Linked DNA regions of Homo sapiens. The protein of the gene in region 2 interacts with the protein of the main gene of each other region in a biochemical or structural test. Each region holds a gene or a part of one and is shown on either strand. Other genes may lie near its edges.

Evidence for each region.
Region 1: the proteins of PTPRG (region 2) and GRID2IP interact in a test that uses a peptide from one of them, tested with the Homo sapiens proteins (one large-scale study listed by IntAct).
Region 3: the proteins of PTPRG (region 2) and GOPC interact in a test that uses a peptide from one of them, tested with the Homo sapiens proteins (one large-scale study listed by IntAct).
Region 4: the proteins of PTPRG (region 2) and SYNJ2BP interact in a test that uses a peptide from one of them, tested with the Homo sapiens proteins (one large-scale study listed by IntAct).
Region 5: of the proteins of PTPRG (region 2) and NTRK1, one has a biochemical effect on the other in vitro, tested with the Homo sapiens proteins (one large-scale study listed by IntAct).
Region 6: of the proteins of PTPRG (region 2) and WAS, one has a biochemical effect on the other in vitro, tested with the Homo sapiens proteins (one large-scale study listed by IntAct).
Region 7: of the proteins of PTPRG (region 2) and INSR, one has a biochemical effect on the other in vitro, tested with the Homo sapiens proteins (one large-scale study listed by IntAct).

The regions. Positions count from the first base shown.
Region 1 is NC_000007.14:6,506,462-6,509,961, forward strand, and holds part of GRID2IP (delphilin), read right to left. Parts: intron 2,853-3,500; coding exon 2,497-2,852; exon of another isoform or gene 2,445-2,496; intron 1,941-2,444; coding exon 1,524-1,940; intron 1-1,523.
Region 2 is NC_000003.12:62,292,571-62,295,339, forward strand, and holds part of PTPRG (receptor-type tyrosine-protein phosphatase gamma isoform 1 precursor), read left to right. Parts: intron 1-43; exon of another isoform or gene 44-147; intron 148-590; coding exon 591-737; 3' UTR 738-2,769.
Region 3 is NC_000006.12:117,571,512-117,575,011, forward strand, and holds part of GOPC (Golgi-associated PDZ and coiled-coil motif-containing protein), read right to left. Parts: intron 2,122-3,500; coding exon 1,956-2,121; intron 1-1,955.
Region 4 is NC_000014.9:70,375,591-70,379,090, forward strand, and holds part of SYNJ2BP (synaptojanin-2-binding protein), read right to left. Parts: intron 182-3,500; coding exon 86-181; intron 1-85. Other genes in the region: SYNJ2BP-COX16 protein, read right to left, coding at 86-181. UniProt on the Homo sapiens protein: Regulates endocytosis of activin type 2 receptor kinases through the Ral/RALBP1-dependent pathway and may be involved in suppression of activin-induced signal transduction.
Region 5 is NC_000001.11:156,877,865-156,880,107, reverse strand, and holds part of NTRK1 (high affinity nerve growth factor receptor isoform 2 precursor), read right to left. Parts: intron 987-2,243; coding exon 746-986; intron 110-745; coding exon 1-109. UniProt on the Homo sapiens protein: Receptor tyrosine kinase involved in the development and the maturation of the central and peripheral nervous systems through regulation of proliferation, differentiation and survival of sympathetic and nervous neurons.
Region 6 is NC_000023.11:48,686,799-48,689,362, forward strand, and holds part of WAS (actin nucleation-promoting factor WAS), read left to right. Parts: coding exon 1-157; intron 158-1,255; coding exon 1,256-1,298; intron 1,299-1,501; coding exon 1,502-1,655; intron 1,656-1,861; coding exon 1,862-2,268; intron 2,269-2,521; coding exon 2,522-2,564. UniProt on the Homo sapiens protein: Effector protein for Rho-type GTPases that regulates actin filament reorganization via its interaction with the Arp2/3 complex. Important for efficient actin polymerization. Possible regulator of lymphocyte and platelet function.
Region 7 is NC_000019.10:7,111,765-7,114,089, reverse strand, and holds the end of INSR (insulin receptor isoform Long preproprotein), read left to right. Parts: 3' UTR 1-1,825; downstream 1,826-2,325. UniProt on the Homo sapiens protein: Receptor tyrosine kinase which mediates the pleiotropic actions of insulin.

The DNA.
Region 1 (3,500 bases), on a different chromosome or scaffold from region 2:
GCAGGGGAATGAAGTCTTAGAACATGGCTGCAGGGCAGGGACACTGAGGATGGATTTGGGTTTGGCCACATGTGTGACCTGTGTCCCTGTGTCCACCTTTGGTAACCAATGGAAGAACCACGCTGTGGAGCAATACTTGAAGATCGGTCCAAGGCTGGCAGGAGTGAGGTCTCCAGGGGACCCAGGAGGTCCTTATTTGTGCCCTTGTCTCACTGAGGTATTTTTTTTTTTTTTTTTTTAGATAGGGTCTCACTCTGTACCCCAGGCTGGAGTGCAGTGGTGCCATCTTGGCTCACTGCAACCTCCACCTGTGGGAATCAAGTGATTCTCCCTCTTCAGCCTCCCGAGTAGCTGGGACCACAGGCATGCACCACCAGGTCTGGCTAACTTTTTGATTTTTTTGTAGAGACAAGATCTCACTATGTTGCCCAGACTTGTCTTGAACTCTTAGGCTCAAGCAGTCCTCCCGCCTCAGCCTCCCAAAGTGCTGGGATTACAGGCGTGAACCACCAAGCCTGGCCTCAATGGGCATCTTTATTAGCAACTTGGAAAGGGTCCCTGGAGATGTGGGCTGAGAAAGCAGGAGACAGAATTGGGACCCAGGAGATGGCAGTGGGGAAAAATCACAAGCATGCCTCTGCCCAGTGTGACTACATGTGAGAGTGAGCTATTGATCCCAAGAAGATGGAGTTGAGGATGATGGTGATCATGAGCACTGGGACGGGGCAGCCCTGGGAGCTGGAAGGAGCCCCTGCCATATTAAAAGGAGTATGATGTCCCAGTCAAAGGAGCTGAGAACCCTGTTCTCTCCTCTGAGCTGGTCAAGCCCCATTGGGGGTTCCATCTGGGAATGTCTCTTTGACAGGGACATGGACACTGGAGTGGGGGTTGGAAACCATGTTCTAAGAGAATGATCTGAAAAAAAAAAAAAGGGGTGGGGTGAACCTTGTTCATCTTGCAGATTGGTTGGTCTGTGGATAAGATTGCTCTGCCCGATTTTAAGGGCCAGAAAGAAAACAGGGCATGGGAATCCTGGGGAGACAAGATTTCAGAGCAAGACAAAGGATGGTTAAAATCGTCCAGTGAGGAAAGGAAGACCTTGACAGGTAGTGAGTTCCCCACCACTGAAGGTGTTCAAGCATACACTGCCAGTGTTGTGAGGGAGGAACTTCAAGCATCAAAGTGAAAGGGTGAAGGCTGGTGTGCAGGAGTTTGAACCAGCTGCTCTTTTAAAGGTTTAAGAGAACTTGTCTGGCCTCAAAAGTGATAGGTTTCAAGGATGGGTAGGGTGGCATTTCCAGGTGTCCCCAGTGTGTGTCTTTGGCTGAGGGACACAGATTGGCTTCAATGCCTGCAGTGGCCCCCAAGCGTGGGGACGTTCTTGGGCTGGGCCTCTACTCATCCTCTGCTTGGGGTAGGGAGGATGATGTTGGAAGATGCCTGGCCGATGGGTTTTCCTTCAGTGCTGCTGCCCAAGCCATCCTCCCCCAGTACAGAGCGCTGCTGGGTCCCAGGTCACCTACCTGACCCCAGATGGTGCCTTCTGAGTTCTCCACCTGTTCCCACCGCAAGCGCTTGACGCTCATGTGGCTGGTCTCACTGCGCCGGTGGCCCAGGCCCCGGGACAGCATGGGGGGTGCACAGGGCACGGGTGGGGGCAGGGGCGGTGGGGGTGGTGGAGGGACTGGGTGGCTGAGTTGGGTGAGGGGCTTGGCCAGCGCCTGAGCAGGGCCCCGGGAACCATCAGAGCTGCGGGAGCTGGGCTTAGCGTCATGGAAAGGCAGGGGTGGCGGTGGTGGGGGGCTGAGCGGGGGTGGGGGGATGTGGTCAGAGATGGAGGAGTAGGTCAGGGAGCTGCCTTCTTCACTGCTGCTGATGCAGTCGCTGGCGCTGCTCCGCTCATTGGTTACGAAGCTGCCCTGGTCATCATGGAAGCTCATCTGGTGGTGGGGAGAGAGGCAAGGGGAGGGTGAGGCTGGGCCCAGAGAGACTAGAGCAGGTGCAAAGTGAAGGATCATGGGATAGCCTGGGACAAGGACAGGGCCATCTCACGGGTTAGCCTCAGGCTGTGAGGGACACCTGGGCTAAGGATAGGACTGTCTCACAGGTTAACCTCAGGCTGTGAGGGGGATAGCCTGGGCTAAGGATAGGACCCTCTCATGGGTAAGCCTCAGGCTGTGAGGGGGATAGCCTGGAATAAGGACAGGACCCTGTCACGGGTTAGCCTCAGGCTGTGAGTGGGATAGCCTGAGCTAAGGAATGGGCTAACCTGCGACAGGGAATATGGGCTAGCCTCAGTCAAGGAGCATGATAACCTTGAACAGGAGATAGGGTAACCTGGGGCAAGGGGTGGGATAGCTTGAGCTAGGGAGTGGGATAGCCTGGGGAAGATCCCAAGGGCAGCAGGCCCCTTGCGGGAGCCCAGGAACACTGTTGCCTTGCAGACCGCCACACCTCGCCTCACCCGCCTCCCTCCACACCTGCTTGCGTGCCCACCTCCTCGTAGTCGTTCTCCGGGGTCAGGAAATCATCCACGATGGTGACCCGGGGGCCCAGCTGCTCGCTCAGCACGTCCAGGAAGCGGTCAGTATCGCGGCTTCGCACAGGGTGGGAGAAGGTGAAGAGCTTCCTGCGGCTGGGCGGGCGGGTGGGGTCCGGGCTTGGGGGGCTGTCGGGGCAGATGGGCCCGGGGCCTGGCTGTGGGGAGGGTGCCCTGCTGCTGTCCAGGCTGGCGTAGGGGTGGGACTCAGAGCTGCTGGGGGAGGCCAGACCCCCCGAACACAGCGGGTGGTAGCAGGGGGAGGGCAAGAGTCGCTCGCTGGGCCATGAGACGCCGGACAGGGTCCTGGGCCCTGGAGGAGGGATGGAGTATGAGGATTCCTCTTCAGCCAGCACCGAGGTTCCAGGTGCAAGCTGGAGAGAGGGTCCTAGGACAGACTGGCTCTGTGTCCCAGGCCACTCTCCTTTCCCTCTCTGGGCACAGTGCAGGAAGACCTTGAGCGGCCCTGCCTTCCAAGCATGACTAAAGGCCAGATCTGGTGAGCAGGAGCACTGCTCGGCCTCAGGACAGGCTGGACGCCAGCTCACCTTGGAATGGTCACCAGGGGTCCCAGCTGGGAGCCACTGAACACCATTAACTCAAAGGGTGGAGGGGTTTCTCTAGGGCCCAGAGCCACAGTCATGGAGCGTCTCGCGCACCCAGCAAGCCCTGAGATCACAGGAGGGCCTCCCAGGGCTCCTGCCTTCTGAGCTGCAGAGCAACTGTCTTCCCAGCTGTGCCAACGCTGGTACAACGCGTTGCACTTGATCATTTATCCAATAACCACTTGCTAACTCGGGGACTTCCTCAGAATCAGGCATCTGCCTTCTTTCTTTTTCTTTTTTAAGACAGGGTCTTACTCTGTTGCTTATAGGCTAGAGTGCAGTGGTTCGAAATAGCTCACTGCAGCCTTGAACTCCTGGGCTCAAGTGATCCTCCCGCCTCAGCCTCTTGAGGAGTT
Region 2 (2,769 bases):
TATGTGTAAAACCTGTACTACATCAGTTGAAACTCAGACTCACAGTTTAGAGCAGTAGTTCTCAATTGGGGGTGATTTTGCCCCCCAGGGGACATTTGGCCATGTCTGGAGACTTTTTTGCTTGTCACAACTGCAGATGGATGGCATCTAGAGGATACAAGCCAGAGATGCTGCTAAGCAAACTACACAGCACAAGACAGCCCTCAACACCATAGAATTATGTGGCCCAAAATGTCAGTAGTGCTCAGGTTGAGAAGCCCTGCTTTAGAGGATAGTATTCTCTGGTTATCTTCATTAACCAGATATTAACCAGATATTGGTTATCTTCATTAACCAATAATGATTGTTCATTAACAATCAGCACTGAGAATTGGTTCCAAGCTAACAGAGATCAAAAGGACATGAAGAAGGTATAGGTCTTGACTATAATAAATTCAAATGATTTTTTTTTTAGTTTTTTTAGATAACATTTATGCTATTGCTGTTTCTCTAGTGTGTTTTTCACAATTACCATTTTAATTGGTATTTCCACCTTATGTGAAATCACTAAACTGTTCTTTGGCTCAAACTGTCTTCCTCTTGTTTTTCAGGAACAATACCAGTTCATCTATAAAGCAATGCTTAGCTTGGTCAGCACTAAAGAAAATGGAAATGGTCCCATGACAGTAGACAAAAATGGTGCTGTTCTTATTGCAGATGAATCAGACCCTGCTGAGAGCATGGAGTCCCTAGTGTGACTGGAATCCTGAAAGGGCACTTAATTTGTAAACTTCTGAAGACTGAGAACTTTTTTGAGGCCTTTTTTGCCAGACTCTAGGTTATACAATAACCCAGTTACTTTTTTACACTGATAAAAGTTTTGATATTTATTTTTTGCCATTTTATGTCTTAATGGTATCCTACTGAGCATTTGCACCTCTGTTCATTTCACACAGTGAAACGCAATTTTACCTAGTTTGCACTATATGATCAGTGTTACTGCCTATAATCTTATACAACAGCAAACCCTGATGTGACATTCCATGACGACATACATGCTACTTTTTTTTAGTTCAATACAGTGAAGGTCTTTGTTATGACAGTGAATATTGCTTTTATTATTATTATTGCTGAAGTGGTTGCATTCTACTAGCAGGCAATGCTGTACTTTTCTTCAGTCCTCCTCTCCTTTTTATTTTAGGCACTGTTCAATACTGTATGCCTTCTGTATTTTAATGGAGTGGATAGCATTGTTTTCTTTTACAGACTAGCAGGCTACTGGGACCTAAAAAGGTCTGTTAATGTCATGGCCTTGAAACAGTTCCATTTATGCTGGTTAAGAGATCCCTTAAGAAGTTAGAAGGCTTAAGAACTGCTTCATGTGAACATCCCTTATTAGTTACAAAGTTATATTCACAGTTTTTTAAAAATGTGTCAAAATAAAGGATAACTCTGTATTACAGCTTTCACAGTAGCTATGTGGACAATGTGTTATTTCCATTTTGACTCTCTAAAATAGCTACATCCTAAAATCAGGGCTATCTTTAACAATAGCAAGATAGCAATATTATATACAACTCAGTTATGAGACCCTTTAGTTATTCTCCATTAATGCTTCTTAGTTTGTAATACCATACCTCACAGTAGGTAGAAGAATGAAAACTTCTGCAGGTGTGTAATTTTGAAACTAGTCCTCTAAAAATTCCCTATTACTCCTATAGCAATCTAATAAAAACTACCTACATAGTTACTGTTTTCTTTCCTTCTTTGCCAAATGTTTTATAATAAATCTCTTAATTACATACATTTTTCTACTTAAGATTAAATTGGAAATACTGTCTTAGCAAAAGTCTTGGGACTATCTAAACTCCCACACATAGATAAATCTGATTTGGAGAGAGAAATTTAAAATATTTAATTAAAGGTGATACCCACATTTTCAAGTTTTTAAAAGAGGGAGATGGCTTTGTATGCTTTTGTGTAGTTTAGAACAGATACACATTAGTAAAAGATACCAATAATCATTAGAGCTCAAGGAAGTTATTAGGTGCAGCCTCTGGAGCCATACTCACGCTGCAGTGCATAATGGGAAAATTAGGAGCATTAATAAGAAATTTCAGTAGTGTTTGTAAGGAAAATAAGCTACTTACTGAGATCTGTTTCTTCTATTGCATGTTTGCTTTTGAGGGACAGCTTCTGTCAAAAGTGAAATCATCACCAGAACTGGGCCTGTTAGGAAGAATAGGGTTTTATTTACTTTTTATGTCAATTAACTTCAACAAAAAGGCCACGCTGGCTGCTGTCATGCCATCTGGGTATGCATTAAACATTAATGATGATCAGCACTGAGGTTCTATTTATCTTGATTTGGCTTTCATAAAGTTTGTCAGAATGGTGCTGGAGGACCAGAAGTGCTAAGGAGAAAGAAGCTATGGGCCAAGTTAAAGAATTTGAATGCAAAGGCCAGGTCAATGGAGTTTTCATAAACTACATAATTTACCAGGGTTTATCTCATCTTCTCAATACATAGATTTAACAACATGGAATACTCTGCTTTTCAAGAGCTGCGTAAGCTAGTCCTGAGATAAGATGTTCAAGAGAGCATGCTAAGTTGCATGTGCTAGATGAGAGACACCTTTACAGCCCCTCCGCTCCAACCAGAGGTGACACAGGAAGCTCTGTAAAGTTCAAGTAAAGCTTGAACACAGGAACACTACAACTGCCAGATGCTGAGGAGAATCAGGAAAGCAATGAGCTAGACTCTTTTTTTAGTCAATTAAGTGGGTTGTT
Region 3 (3,500 bases), on a different chromosome or scaffold from region 2:
CCAGTTTTAAAATACTGATCATGTGCAAATGCAAAACAAAACAAAAAACCTTTCAATCCTTCACTATCTTCCTTAGCAACTACCATCCTCCCCCTTTCCTTAACCTCTACACGAAGTTCATCCTCATCATATCTACTTCCTTGCCACTCACATTCAGTCCTCTGGTCTCTGTAATTAGAGTTTTGCCCCTACATGCACAACTGGAATTTTCTTTTCTGTGGTCACCAGTAATCAATATTGTTACACACAATTAACACTTTTTGTCACTATCCTACTTCAAACTTGCAGAAAGTTGATACTGTTCATCAACCCCTCCTTGAAACCCACTCTCTCTGTTAGTTTTTATTACACTACTTTCCTAGATGGCCTGTATCTGACAGCTCCATCCCAGGCTCCTTCCTTTAGTGATCCTTTTCCTTCTCCCACTCCATAAGTTTCTATCCTTGGCCTCCTATTCTTTTTACTACATATATACTTTATATATACATATATACTTGGAACAGGCTTAATGAGTTCCAAGGTTTCAAGTATAATAGAAGGATAGTTTCCCTAATATTTCTTCAAAACAGATTTCTCTTCTGAAATCCAGAGTCATATGTCCAGTTGGATGTATCTTGGATACCCCATTGTCACCTCAAACACTACTTGTCTAAAACTGATCTCATCATCTTTTCCCCAAATCCTTCCTTTTCTTCTATTTCCCTTCCCAGTGAATGCCAGATCTCACTCAGTTGCTCAAACTAAAAGCCCAGACTCTTCTTTTTCACTATTTAACCAAAAGCAGTTAGTCACCAATCAAGCCCTCCTGATTATAATCCTCTCAAATCTATCCTTCTTCTCAAATGCCACTTCTCCTGACCTCATCACTTTCTCCTTGGATGACCATAGTATCTTTCTAATATATCTCCTTGACTCCAACTTGGTCCTCTTCACTATACCAAAATAACTATTAAAAAATGTAAATTTTATGAAGTCTGCCATTTTATTTAAAACTTCCATGATTATCAGGTTAAAGTTAAAATTCCTCTATTTAGTATAAAATAATTTCTATAATCCAGCCACTACCTAAAACCCCAACCTCATATTTAGCTAATTTAACAAGCATGCTTTTATCACTCAGACACATCTGATACAAACTACTTTGTCTTCCTCCTAACCGCTCCATTTCCCAAATCTACTGGACCTAGAAGTTAATGGGAACCACCAGTGCCCTAGAAAACAATGGCATAAGTGCTTATCGCTATCCCCACTTCTCTTCCACCAACTCTATTTACATACCAATTCTTCTTACAAAAATCTTTGCAGAGCCAACAAACTATTTTACTATTTAAGGCCATACATTATCTGGTACTAAGATATGTGAACCCTTGGGAGACATGCTTTCATATATTAAGGTCTATATTATCAAGCAGCTGTTATGATAAAATTCAATAAAGATTTATCCAGATAGAAGCTTTTATATAATGGTGGCTACAGAAGCAGACAACTGGCTACAGATCTCAAATTCTATCTTAATCCAAGACCAAACAGGTGTAAATGTTAGTTCAGAATCTACATTTGGATTCAGTTACTAAAAGTTCCCTTAAAGAACTACCCCAAAATATCTGCCAAATTATCAATATGACCACACACTCTAAGCTAAGATTAAAACAAATTCAAGCATGCCCAATCATGATCCAGGAAAAACTGGAAATATGATCCAACATTATAGCAATATGCATTTGCTAACAATGGCTCACTGTCTGCAGCACTCTCAGGGCATTAGTAAGTCTGTGAAGAGCTACTAAAATTTCTATGGGTGTTGAAACTTCATCTACTTTGAATAAGTTGAATCCCATTTTCACTTTTAAATAAAGGTTTCAAACAATACTAGAATAAAGGAAAGAATGGAAAGCAACTGTGATTAAAGAAAGAAAGAAGAGGCTGGGTGGGAAGCAGCAGCAAAGCAAACATACATGGCCTGGTGGTGCTTGCATTGGTCGTTTCAAGTCATTACGTCCTCTGCAGGCTCGGATCACAGTTTTGTGACGATGCAAATGTATTTCAGCTTCTAATTGGTTCCAAAGCTTATCATGAGCAGGTCCCTTCATATCTCGTCCTAGCAATTGTATCTGTTGGACCCTTCATATTGGGAAAAGAGTACATTGATTTTTCATTATATTCACTACAGTGAGAATTCAGGAAAATTAGTGAACATAAGTAGCTTTTGCATGAATCTCAAATTAGTGATAAAACTAATACTCACGAACTTCTTGATGTCTCTCAGATATAAAAAAAATATGAAAACTCTGAAAAGAACAGGTATCCTCAAGGGAAAAACCAGTAAAAAAAATTTTTAAAGGAATTAATGTGAACTCCTTTAGTCATATACTTAATTCAAATAAATCTAAAAAAAAATTTATGAGATTAATGTCAATCTATGTCTTGCATGCAAAGTCACTGAACTCAGATACTATTAAATGTTAGCTTTTAGATGAGATAAATGGACAAAAATATTTCTTCTAATTAGAGTTTCTTTTCACAAAATGATTACTTTAAATGTGGTTAAAAGTTACTAGAACCAGCCAGGGCAACAAGGCAAAACCTTAACAATTAACCAGGCATGGTGGCATGCCTGTGGTCTCAGCTACTTGGAAGGCTGAGGTGGGAGGATCACTTGAGCCTGAAAGGTGGACGCTGCAGTGAGCCAACGTTGCACCACTGCACTCCATCCTGAGCGACAGAGTGAGACCCCATCTCACAAAATTTAAAAAAAAAAAAAAGTTACTAGAAAATTTGTACTTCAAGATGATATAAATTATTTTTTCTTTGTTCCATGTTTTTAATGTGACATTAAAAGAATATGCACAAAATGATTTAGTACTAATAAGTCACCAAAGTTTGTTAATAATTTACTTAATAAATACAGCAGAATTCTGTGTATGATTATGATAAAATCATTGTCATTAACTAAATACCAACACGTTTTTTTGAAGGGCAAGAAAGACTGGGTTTCAGTGATCATAAAAAGAATTCCTTATGGAAGTTCTGCTATGCATGTGAATATCGGCTGTACTGGTCTCAAGGCACAAAATAGTTGAAAAGTGCTGCTCTACAGAGTTGTTAGCATTTCACAGTAAGATACTATCAGTGTTTGTGTGTGTAAACTAAACATATTTAGTATGGATAACTAGATCTGCGATACATAATGCTGTCAGTATTAATTTAACAACAGTAAGTTAAAACCAACTGTAAAATAATTCTGAGGAAAAAGATTAATGCTTCATTTACCATAAGAAAAAAGAGTAGGCCAGGTGCGGTGGCTCACACCTGTAATCCCAGCACTTTGGGAGGCCAAGGTGGATGGATCACAAGGTCAGGAGTTTGAGACCAGCCTGGCCAACATGGTGAAACCCCATCTCTACTAAAAATACAAAATTTAGCTGGCCGTGGTGGCAGGCACCTGTAATCCCAGCTACTCAGGAGGCTGAGGTAGGAGAATCGCTTGAACCCAGGAGGCA
Region 4 (3,500 bases), on a different chromosome or scaffold from region 2:
ACACTGAAGATTACACACATTGGGCTTATTCAGAAGTACAGTGCAAAAGCCTGGTGCCAGGTTTCTGGCTCAAAGTGATACCTACCCTGTGCTGCACTCTCAGAGACACAGCATAGCCTGCATTACGAAAGAGGTCTACAGCATCCTGGTGCAGCAGGTTCTTTAGGTCTTGGCCATTTACCTGTCAAAACACCAAAGAGTAGTAAGAAAGGAAGAAGGCTATTAGAAGTCAACAATTTATTTTCAAATGGCCAAACTTTAAATAACAAACTCCTTCAGAGCAAATTGCAAGGACTAGGAGTATGGGCAAAGTTACTTAGAGCTCAGAACTTAGAACTTTTTTCATTTTCAAAACTATGTTTTCCTAGAACTGAAGTTCCACAGGCCATCTGAAGAGAACCTATGTAAAATAAAAAGTGGTCTCTCCTTCCTCTTAGCTTCTATGCCTGTCTCGTTTTGACACTTGGGAATCTGTTACCGTATTAGCATTTCTTCCATGAGTGTTAACCTGCTTCCTTAAAGATAGCATGGTCTTCCAGGTTACCACCCTAACCTTTATATTCCTAAGCCCTGGCATTGCCAGCTGCAACTGTAGAAATATAACTCTATGAAACTCTCCACCAATTTATTTTGATGTCATATAAATCTATACTAGCCCATTCTATTGGGCTTTTCATAGTGAACAACTTCCTGTGATTCCACGGATACTCCTATCCATTATATCCAAATTAGTAAATTAGTCATTTTTTAATCAAAACTTAGTAAAAACCATATTCCTGTGATGATATAAATCCTTAAAAAAATTTCAGTGTAGGTCACTCCTACCACTTAGAGGTGAGAGATGTGAAGGAATACTTGTATTAATACTTTTTGCAGTTAGGAGTGACATCGGCCACAAGTAATAATCTATCTATCCTATGCTGTATTCAGTGACACAGCACAGCCCACTTAGTGCAAGATTACATATCTTTTATACTTGTCAATGTCATCGTTAACAGTAGCAGCAATAAGAACATCTGATATATTTCTTTTGATAGGTTCTGTACTTTACATACATTATCTCTTTTAATTCTCATGATAACCCTATGAGGTAGACATTATTTTTATCTCGTTTCCACAGATAAAGAAACTTGAAGCTCAGTGAGATTTGTGCTGGAGCTAGGGCTAGGATTTGTAAATAATGAAAGAAAGATCAAAGTGTCCTTGCATTTCACTGTTCCTTCTGCACTGTTATTCTTCCATCTTGACTCACCAACTATCCTCTGCTCAGCTAATGCTCAAGTCACTCCCTTACTCAACTCTCTCATTTTCCTTGTCGCAATCTTCCTTCTCCAAGGCACTCATAATCTTCCCTCTACTCTCTCTCTTGCCAATACAGTTGGTGAATGAATCTACCAACACTTCTGCCCTATAGACAGTCTACCTTTGTAAACCAATAGTTTCCAACTCCATTCCACTTCAGTCACCAATTGACGTAAACTTAGACTTCAATATTAGACATGCTTCAGCTCCAATATCTCAAACTCTTAAAAACCTGACAACAATTTCCACTCTTTTCATACTTTCTATTCATCTACTGAATTTCCTCCTTGTAACCTTTTTAGACTTTACTTGCATCCTTGCCCATCTAGGAGTTCCTGTTGTAATTTCAACAAAGCACTTGGTAAATCATTAGAATCCTTTGTCCCCAAGATCTTCTGCCATCTTTCCAGTCCTGGGCCATATTCTGCAATCCTTTTCTTGCCATCATTAAGTTGAATATTCTGGGAGAAAGGTATATTCTCATTCTCCACCATAGACCCATACTAGCTGACTCCAGCTCATCCTTAAAACCGCTTCTACTCATTTGCTGAACTCCTTAATAAACACGCAGTGATAGCTGTTCCAGACCTTTTTCCACCACCGTCTCCAACCCCATTTCTACCTCTCTCCCTAGCTGATTCCTTTATCTTTTGTGAGAACACTGAGGACTTCTGATAAATGCTTTCTACATTTTCTTTCCTTCTCCCTCAAAGTTTCTTTATATCTTCTCACTACTCCTTTCCCCTAGTCTCTGAATTAGATCTATTTCCTTTTCAAGGTGAAACCATCCACTGATGATCTTGATCATACTTCTTCTAACCTCCTTACAAAACTCACAGACACTCTGTCTTCTTGATTACTTAACTATTATCTTTCTCTGCTCCTTCTCTCAACTAAAATTATACACCTCTATAAAGAAAACAATACAACTATTTCTTGGAACGCATTATCACTCTCCTCCCATCTTCTTTCCTCTTTCTTTGACTGCTAAATTTGTTCTAAGAACTGTTTGCATGCACTACCTCTATTTCTTCAGCATTCATTCTCTATTCCCCTGTAATCTCACAATGTATGAGGTAGAAGGGAAGAACATGTTTTTCTAAAGGTCACCAATAACTTCCAATCACCAAATCCTATAGCCGTTTTTGTCTTCAGACCACCTCCTCCCTTTTGTAATTTTCTCCTATCTTGGCATATGAACACTTAGCATTCTTTGTTCTTAAATTATTCCTTTCCGGATTTCCTCTTCCCTTTCTTTCTCCTTAAGGTGAGTCAAGGTTTTTCAGTATCAATCCTCTATCTTCTTTCTTTCTCTCCCACTGTGAGCTTTAACAGTTTCAACCATAATCTGTAAGATAACTCCCAAATTTGTATCCCTACTTGTACTTCTGGATTTGCCAGTTTCTTGCTGGATGCCTACACCTGTATACTCTGCTAGACCCTAATTCAACATATCCAAAACCTCTTTATTACTTCCCACAAAAATCAGAATACATACCTTGCTTCTTATTGCCACTATCATTCCTTCAAACTTTTTTTTTTTTTTTTTTTTTTGAGACAGAGTCTTGCTCTGTCCCTCAGGCTGTCACAGTGGTGTGATCATGGCTGACTGGAGACTTGAACTCCTGGGATCAAGTGATTCTCCTGCCTCAGCCTCCGAAAGTGCTGGGATTATAGGTGTGAGACATTGTGCCCCAGCCCAGGCTAAAATTTTAATAATAGTTTTAAACTCTCTCTGCTGTCAACTTTCATATACAATAGATTGCCAAACTCCACAGTCTAACACTATGACATCTCTCATACAGTATTTTCTTTCCTATTGCCTATTTTAGGCTGTTGACACTAAAAACAAAACAAAAACTTGGGACCCCAATCCACCATGTCAAGAGAAAAAATTAAGCTGCAAGCTGAGTCATGCAATAAACTGCTTTTCCTTTTGTTCCCAAGCAGATAGCTACAGATAACAGGTTAAATATCTCCACAGGTAATTACTCTATGTTCACCTTATCTTATGTAAAGTCCCAACTTACTAAGCAAAAGAAAATACGTAATTGACTATTCCCTTGCCTGCTCCTTTCCTCTGGCAACATGTGGATTACCATACCTTCCCTCTTTGCTCTTCAGCCTACTTTAAATATTAAAGCCCTCAAAATCATCTTTGGAGAAAGGAACATACCTGTCTCCCAGGCATGTCCTTA
Region 5 (2,243 bases), on a different chromosome or scaffold from region 2:
CCCAGAGCACCACGCCGAAGCTCCACACGTCGCTCTCGGTGGTGAACTTACGGTACAGGATGCTCTCGGGCGGCATCCAGCGAATGGGCAGCATGGTGCGGCCTCCCACCTGCCACGGGCGGACACTGCATCAATTCCAGGGGCGCCTGGGACAGCCCGTCAAGGCACAGCCTACCCCAGCCCCATCATTAAAAATAAATACACAAGCTCGGTGGTTCACGCCTGTAATCCCAGCACTTTGGGAGGCCGAGGTGGGCAATCACGAGGTCAGGAGATCGAGACCATCCTGGCCAACATGGTGAAACCCCATCTCTACTAAAAATACAAAAATTAGTTGGGCGTGATGGCGTGTGGCCTGTAATCCCAGCTACTCGGGAGGCTGAAGCAGGAGAATCGCTTGAACCAGGGAGTCAGAGGTTGCAGTGAGCCGAGATCGTGCCACTGCACTCCAGCCTAGCAACAGAGTGAGACGCCGTCTCAAAAAAATAAATTAAATAAATAAATAAACAAACAGTGGTGGCTCTCAGGTCTAAGAGGCAAAAACCGAAGGTGCTGTTTCCATCTGGGATAGCGAAGGAGACAGAGCCCCCTCCACCAGGAGCCGAGGAGGTAGGTTGAAAACCAGAGCCAGTGAATCTCAGACCCATGCAGCCATCCTAGCAAGGGCAGGCTCTCAGTGGTCTTGGGATCCAGGGTGTCTACAGTTTGGATGCAGGGGAAGGCGTTGGGGACAAAGGACCCTTACACGGTAATAGTCGGTGCTGTAGATATCCCTGCTCATGCCAAAATCACCAATCTTGACCACCAGTCCCTGGCCCACTAGACAGTTGCGTGTGGCCAGGTCCCGGTGCACAAAATGCAGACCCGCCAGGTACACCATCCCCGCAGCGACCTGGCTAGCCACGGCCAGCAGCTGCCCCAGACCCAGGGGGCCTGGAGCCACATCCTCCCCACCAGCCAGCAGCTTGGCATCAGGTCCATGGGATCTGTGAACAAGAAAAGGAGAGGGGATAGGCTGGGAGGATAGAACTCCCAGGAGCCTGAGGAAGGCGATCCCCAGCAGCCGCGTGTGATGGGAGAGGAGACTGGGGACCTGGAAGTGGAGGATTGAGAGAACAGTAGAGGCAGCTGTCCAGAGGGGTGGGATGGAGGAGCGGAACAGGTGTGCCCACCTCCAGGGCTCCCACCAGAGACAGCCCATGGTTCCCACATCCATGCCTTCCTCTCTGGCAGCTCCTTGAACTCCAGATGCCCACTGGCCCCTACATCCCTTGCCATAGGCATGTCAGACTCAGCCCTTGCCAATTGGAGCTCGGTGTCTTTCCCCAAGCCTGCCCCTGCCTCAGGGAAGGGACCCTTCCCACCCAGGCAGACCCTGAAACCAGGGAGTCCTTGATTGTCCTGTCTCTCTCCCCTCTGCCCTCAGTGTCCAGCCATTCCTACGGGGTCTTCCTTCCTTTCGAAGGTGTCCAGGATGCCCGCCTTCTCCCCAGAGCGAGCACTCGGGTCAGTCCTAGTCACTCATCCATATTCCCCAATGTTCCTTCTCCTGAACCTTTGCCTGAACTGATCACTTTGCCAAAAATGCCCTTTCCTACTAGCCAATCTTCTCCTCATTTGTTTAGTTGAGGCATTTGTTAAACATTTCCAGTGTGCCAAGCACTGGGGCTACAGTGCAGAGTATGATGCAGATAAGCAGGTCATGGCAGTGCAGTGTGAGGGGCACCTGGCAGGCACCACGGGTGGGAATGGAAAAAGCCAGGGAAGGCTTCCTAGAGGAAGGGACACCTAAATTGAGACTCAAGTCCTGAAGCCATTCGAAGGGAGCTGAGGCAGGGAGGGGTAGAGTTTGTGTGTCTGTCTCCATCTTTCTATGGAGGGAGGGAGGCCCAATGCCCCAGGCAGAGGGAACTGGAAGTACAAAGGCCTGGAGGGGAGAAGGAACAGATGGTCCCTCCTAGGGGAAGTCTTCCAGACTCATCTCTGAGCATTAATGATTCCCTCCATTGATTCCCCCAGTGTTCCATCCAGCAGTTAGAGCCTCGTCTCCCACAGCCTGGGCCCCAGATGCTGGTATCTCCCTAGCCTGTGTCCCCAAGACCAGCACTGAGCCTATGCCATGTCTGGGAGCAAAGAGATAGGCTCCTCCCTGGCCTTCTTGGGCTCCTCTGTGCCTATCCTCCTCCACACTCAACCTTGGGTCTGGCCTCGCCTCCTGCTCCACACCCTGCATGGGCTCCCTC
Region 6 (2,564 bases), on a different chromosome or scaffold from region 2:
TCTCCCTGGGGCTGGCGACAGTGGACATCCAGAACCCTGACATCACGAGTTCACGATACCGTGGGCTCCCAGCACCTGGACCTAGCCCAGCTGATAAGAAACGCTCAGGGAAGAAGAAGATCAGCAAAGCTGATATTGGTGCACCCAGTGGATTCAAGTGAGAGCCACTCCCCAGTGGACCCACAGATTCCTGGGGGCAGAGGGGCACATGAACAAGTGGACAGCTGAGTGAATGGAAGGATGGGCAGATGGGCAGATGGCTGGGTGGCTGAGTGGGTAAATGGGTGGTTGGATAGGTAGGTGCAGGGCTGGGTCTAGGGAGAGGTAAATAAGGCACCAAGGGTACAAAATTTAAGGAGGCACTCACTCTCAGAGGCATGCAACTGTAATTCCTGACTCTCAGAGTGAGTGACTCACTTAAATTTTGCACCCTAGGCACCTTACTTGCCTCACCCTGGGCCCACTCTGGGTGGGCTGTTAGGAGAGCAGGTGGGTGGGCAGGTGAACAAATGGATAGATAGATGAGGTAGATGATGGATGAGAAGGGCTGGTGGGTAGGTGGGTGAGTGGATGGGTGGATGGATGGATAAATGAATGGATGAATGAATGGGTTGAAGAATGAATGGATAAGTGGTTGGATGGACAAGTTTATGGGTGGATGGGTTGATGGGAGGTGCGTGGATAGATAGATGGGTGAGTGGATAGGTGTGTGGACAGATTGATATGCAGGCTGATTGGCTCACAGACAAGGTGGATGGGGATGGACAGGTGGACAGATACGTGGATGAATGGACAGTTCAATGGATAAGTGAACAGAAGTGTGTGGTTGCATGGGTAGAAAAATGAGTGGATGGATAGATGGAAAGGTGGGCACATGGGTAGGTGGATGGGTGGATGGACAAGTGTGTGTGAGGACAGACTGGTGGACAAATGGGTGAACAGACATATGTGGGCAGATAGTTGCAGAGACAGATGTATGGACAGATCAGTAGTCCAACAGATGAATGTGAATGAATAGGTGGACAAATGCATGGGATAGATGGGGAAAGAGGGATGGGTGGATGGATCAGCACCACAAACTATGGAGCCCTTCTAATTCCATAACTCCTGCCTATACTCATTCACTCATTCAGTCTCATTCATTAATTCTGGCCCCTCAGAGTCTCTTTGGGCAGGAGAGGGCAAGAGGGTTTCACTATGAAGGGAGGGAAGGAAGGGCAGTGAGGATTCACTGGAGTCTCTTCACCTCTCCCAGGCATGTCAGCCACGTGGGGTGGGACCCCCAGAATGGATTTGACGTGAGTAACTTCAGAGTCTCTTGGACTCCACTAAACTTCCACCCACCCTTCCAAAGACCACTGCTGAGACCCCACCCCCAGATCGTGCCCTTCCCACACCCCTCTCAGATCCCTTGCTGGGATGGACCCAACGACAATCCATGTCGCTTGTCTCCTCGCCTTATTCCTCTACTCCTGCCCCTGGCCTTTTTCCTCCTGGGCAGGTGAACAACCTCGACCCAGATCTGCGGAGTCTGTTCTCCAGGGCAGGAATCAGCGAGGCCCAGCTCACCGACGCCGAGACCTCTAAACTTATCTACGACTTCATTGAGGACCAGGGTGGGCTGGAGGCTGTGCGGCAGGAGATGAGGCGCCAGGGTGAGACCCTGCTTCCATACGCTCCCTTCTCTAGCCCAAGCAGCTCATAGCTAAGATACGCACTAAGTCACTCAGTCCTTATGGGAGCACCTATACTGCTTCAGTCAGGAGTTGGTCAGTGGGGGTACCCATTTTACAAATGAGCAAAACTGAGGCTCAGAAGAAATCAATGAGAGTTACAGCTATGTGTTATACCCCCTCCACAGAGCCACTTCCGCCGCCCCCACCGCCATCTCGAGGAGGGAACCAGCTCCCCCGGCCCCCTATTGTGGGGGGTAACAAGGGTCGTTCTGGTCCACTGCCCCCTGTACCTTTGGGGATTGCCCCACCCCCACCAACACCCCGGGGACCCCCACCCCCAGGCCGAGGGGGCCCTCCACCACCACCCCCTCCAGCTACTGGACGTTCTGGACCACTGCCCCCTCCACCCCCTGGAGCTGGTGGGCCACCCATGCCACCACCACCGCCACCACCGCCACCGCCGCCCAGCTCCGGGAATGGACCAGCCCCTCCCCCACTCCCTCCTGCTCTGGTGCCTGCCGGGGGCCTGGCCCCTGGTGGGGGTCGGGGAGCGCTTTTGGATCAAATCCGGCAGGGAATTCAGCTGAACAAGGTGAGGACAGGCAGGATGGAGGATTGGGGGTCTAGGACTCTGGGGTGTCCCGTCTAAGTCAGGATACTGGGGGGCTGAGGCCAGGACTGAGGAGAGTGCCAGGCCTTAGGGATTCAGTGATAGGGTTGAAAGGTTGGTGGGAAGCCTTGAAGGGGACTGGAGTGTGTGGGAGAGAAAATATTGATGGAGGGGCGGGGAGAAATGCTCCTTTCCCAGGCCCTAAGCCCTCTGTGCTGATCCCTGCCTGCTGCAGACCCCTGGGGCCCCAGAGAGCTCAGCGCTGCAGCCACCACCTC
Region 7 (2,325 bases), on a different chromosome or scaffold from region 2:
ATTAATGTGCTGAACGCTTTTTTTTTTTTTTTTTTTTTTTTTGCAACAACACCTTGGACCTCTGTGTTGGGGTTTGACTGACCTCAAGCTGATATTATTGGACCTTGTGCAGCTTTGATAACCCATGTGAGAGTCTAGGCAGGACCAGTGGGGCCCAAATCTTGCTGCTCTTGTACTTTTAGGCACTGCCCTTGCAGACTCACCTTTCTCCACCTGCCCTGGAGAAAGGTAGGGTGTGCTGGGCCTGCCCCTTGCAAATGGGATTCACCAGTTTCATTTATTTGACTCTACTGCCACAGTGAAAAGAGCAAACAGCTATTGGGTTGCAAACCTCCTTTGACATTAGGAAATGTTGACTTTGTAACAATAAAACTTTGGTCCTAGAAAGACACGGTTGTCCTGGGAGTTTGTAGTGTTAAGTTGCAACAACAACAACAAAAAGCAACAAAACCAGCTTAGGATAACACTTTTTGTTGCTTGTTCTTAAAGATGTCTCACTATGATTAAAACCCTTTTCATTAATGTAGTGAAAGCCACACAGGAGTTCCTTCTTCCAGGAGGAGAATACCAAGCACATCACTTTCTCTCTGCATCAGTGATGTCAAATACGCATCAGAAAATGTTCAGGTTTTAGGAGCTGTCCTAGGTGCTGTTTCATCATTGGAAGCAGTGAGAAAGAGAAGCACTGCTGCTTGTCTGGATATAGGCTGAGGATGATTGAGAGAAGCTGTGGGAACTGACACAAGGGTCTGCATAGGTCATCCTGTGACCCTGGGGACTATGTTACCAACTGACAGACAGATCTTTCACTGTATCCTAGCAGGGCAGGTAGTCCACCAAGAAATGTGCTTATTGGATTGGGAGGTGTTTATTTGTAGTCTGCTGTAACACGTGTGAAAGAGCAGGAGCGTCATCAGCATATGACTTGCGCTGGTCATCCGGTAAATGGATGTGCTGTAGTCCCAGTGCTAATCATTTCTCTCCTTCACAGTGGGTGGAAGTTTAGGGTTAAATGTCCTTTGAATGTCACCTGGTGAGTCCTTGACACCTTAGGCTCTTCAGAAACAATGGTTTTGTTGAGGATGGGGAACAGGGAATGCCGATTTTATATACATGGTACACAGAGAGGGGTGTCACTTCAGAAAATCTTCCAGCATGTTCTTCAGAATATTAATTTATATGCGAGGTGAGGTTGGGAATGAAAAGAACAGGTCAGCACTTTTTTTTTTCCTAGAACATACAAAAGAACATGGTGGACTTTCAGGGAGTGCAATGGAAGGTGAATATTTCCTTAAGGGTCCCCGAGAAATGGGAGTGAGGGGAGGGGACACAATGGCTTTTTGAGCTTACTTTTACCTTCTGATACTAGTCAAGGTCCAGAACCAGCCACCAGCCAAATTTCTATCTGGGTGCGGGCCACTGAAAATCCTTGTTAAAAACCAGATCACAAATCTGGGGCTCTTGGTCCCATTGGAGAAGGAAGGAAGAGCCTCAAAATAAGTGTGCACCCATGCACATATTCAGGAACAGCTTGTTTAGTCTTTACACTTTGCCTGAAAGTTGCTTCTCCTCGTCCCTTTGTGTGCCTGGGTGGCCTCGGCCCTGTGCGTTGGCAACGCAGGATCAAATGTGCTGCAGCTTTTGCAGAAAACAACTCAGAAACACAAAACCCCCCAACAGCTCAATTATTATTTTTTCAATGTTTTCCTACAAGAGCCAAGTAGCACCATGTACAGAAGACGCCTTTTTTTTTGGAATATTGAAATCGTTCTGCATGTAAAATATGGGATAATGACCTGTTTATATTAAAATTCTGATTAAATTATCTGAGAATACGCTTGTTTTTGTGTGGTGTCCCGGTAAGGACCTGTCGTGTGGTCGGGGGATGTGGCTATGAGTTGGGCTGTGTTAAGGAAAACCTCTTGGAATATGTAGGTGCCTTTTTTTAGAGGAGAAAAACACCTAGATTCTTCCACACATGAAAAGGGAGGTTAAATAGTTGCTACCAGCAGAGTTGATGACTCGTAGGGACATACTTGTATGGCCAAACTGGTGGTTTAAATATTGCACTATTTCCATACCATTTGGTAAGTAAGCGCTTCCCCAAGGGCTCCCAGACCTCCCCATGGTCCAACCACTAAAGGGTTCACTCCGAGAATACCAATGAACCTTCAAGATCTTGCTCTATTCTGACATGCGGGAAACTCATATGTTAAGTATTTTCAATGTCATCCTGGGAGTGGAGACCTGTCCCAGGTTGGGTGGACAGGTGAGTGACCATGGGTTAGACCATGGGATTGAAAGCCTTTTGAATAGTCTTTCTTG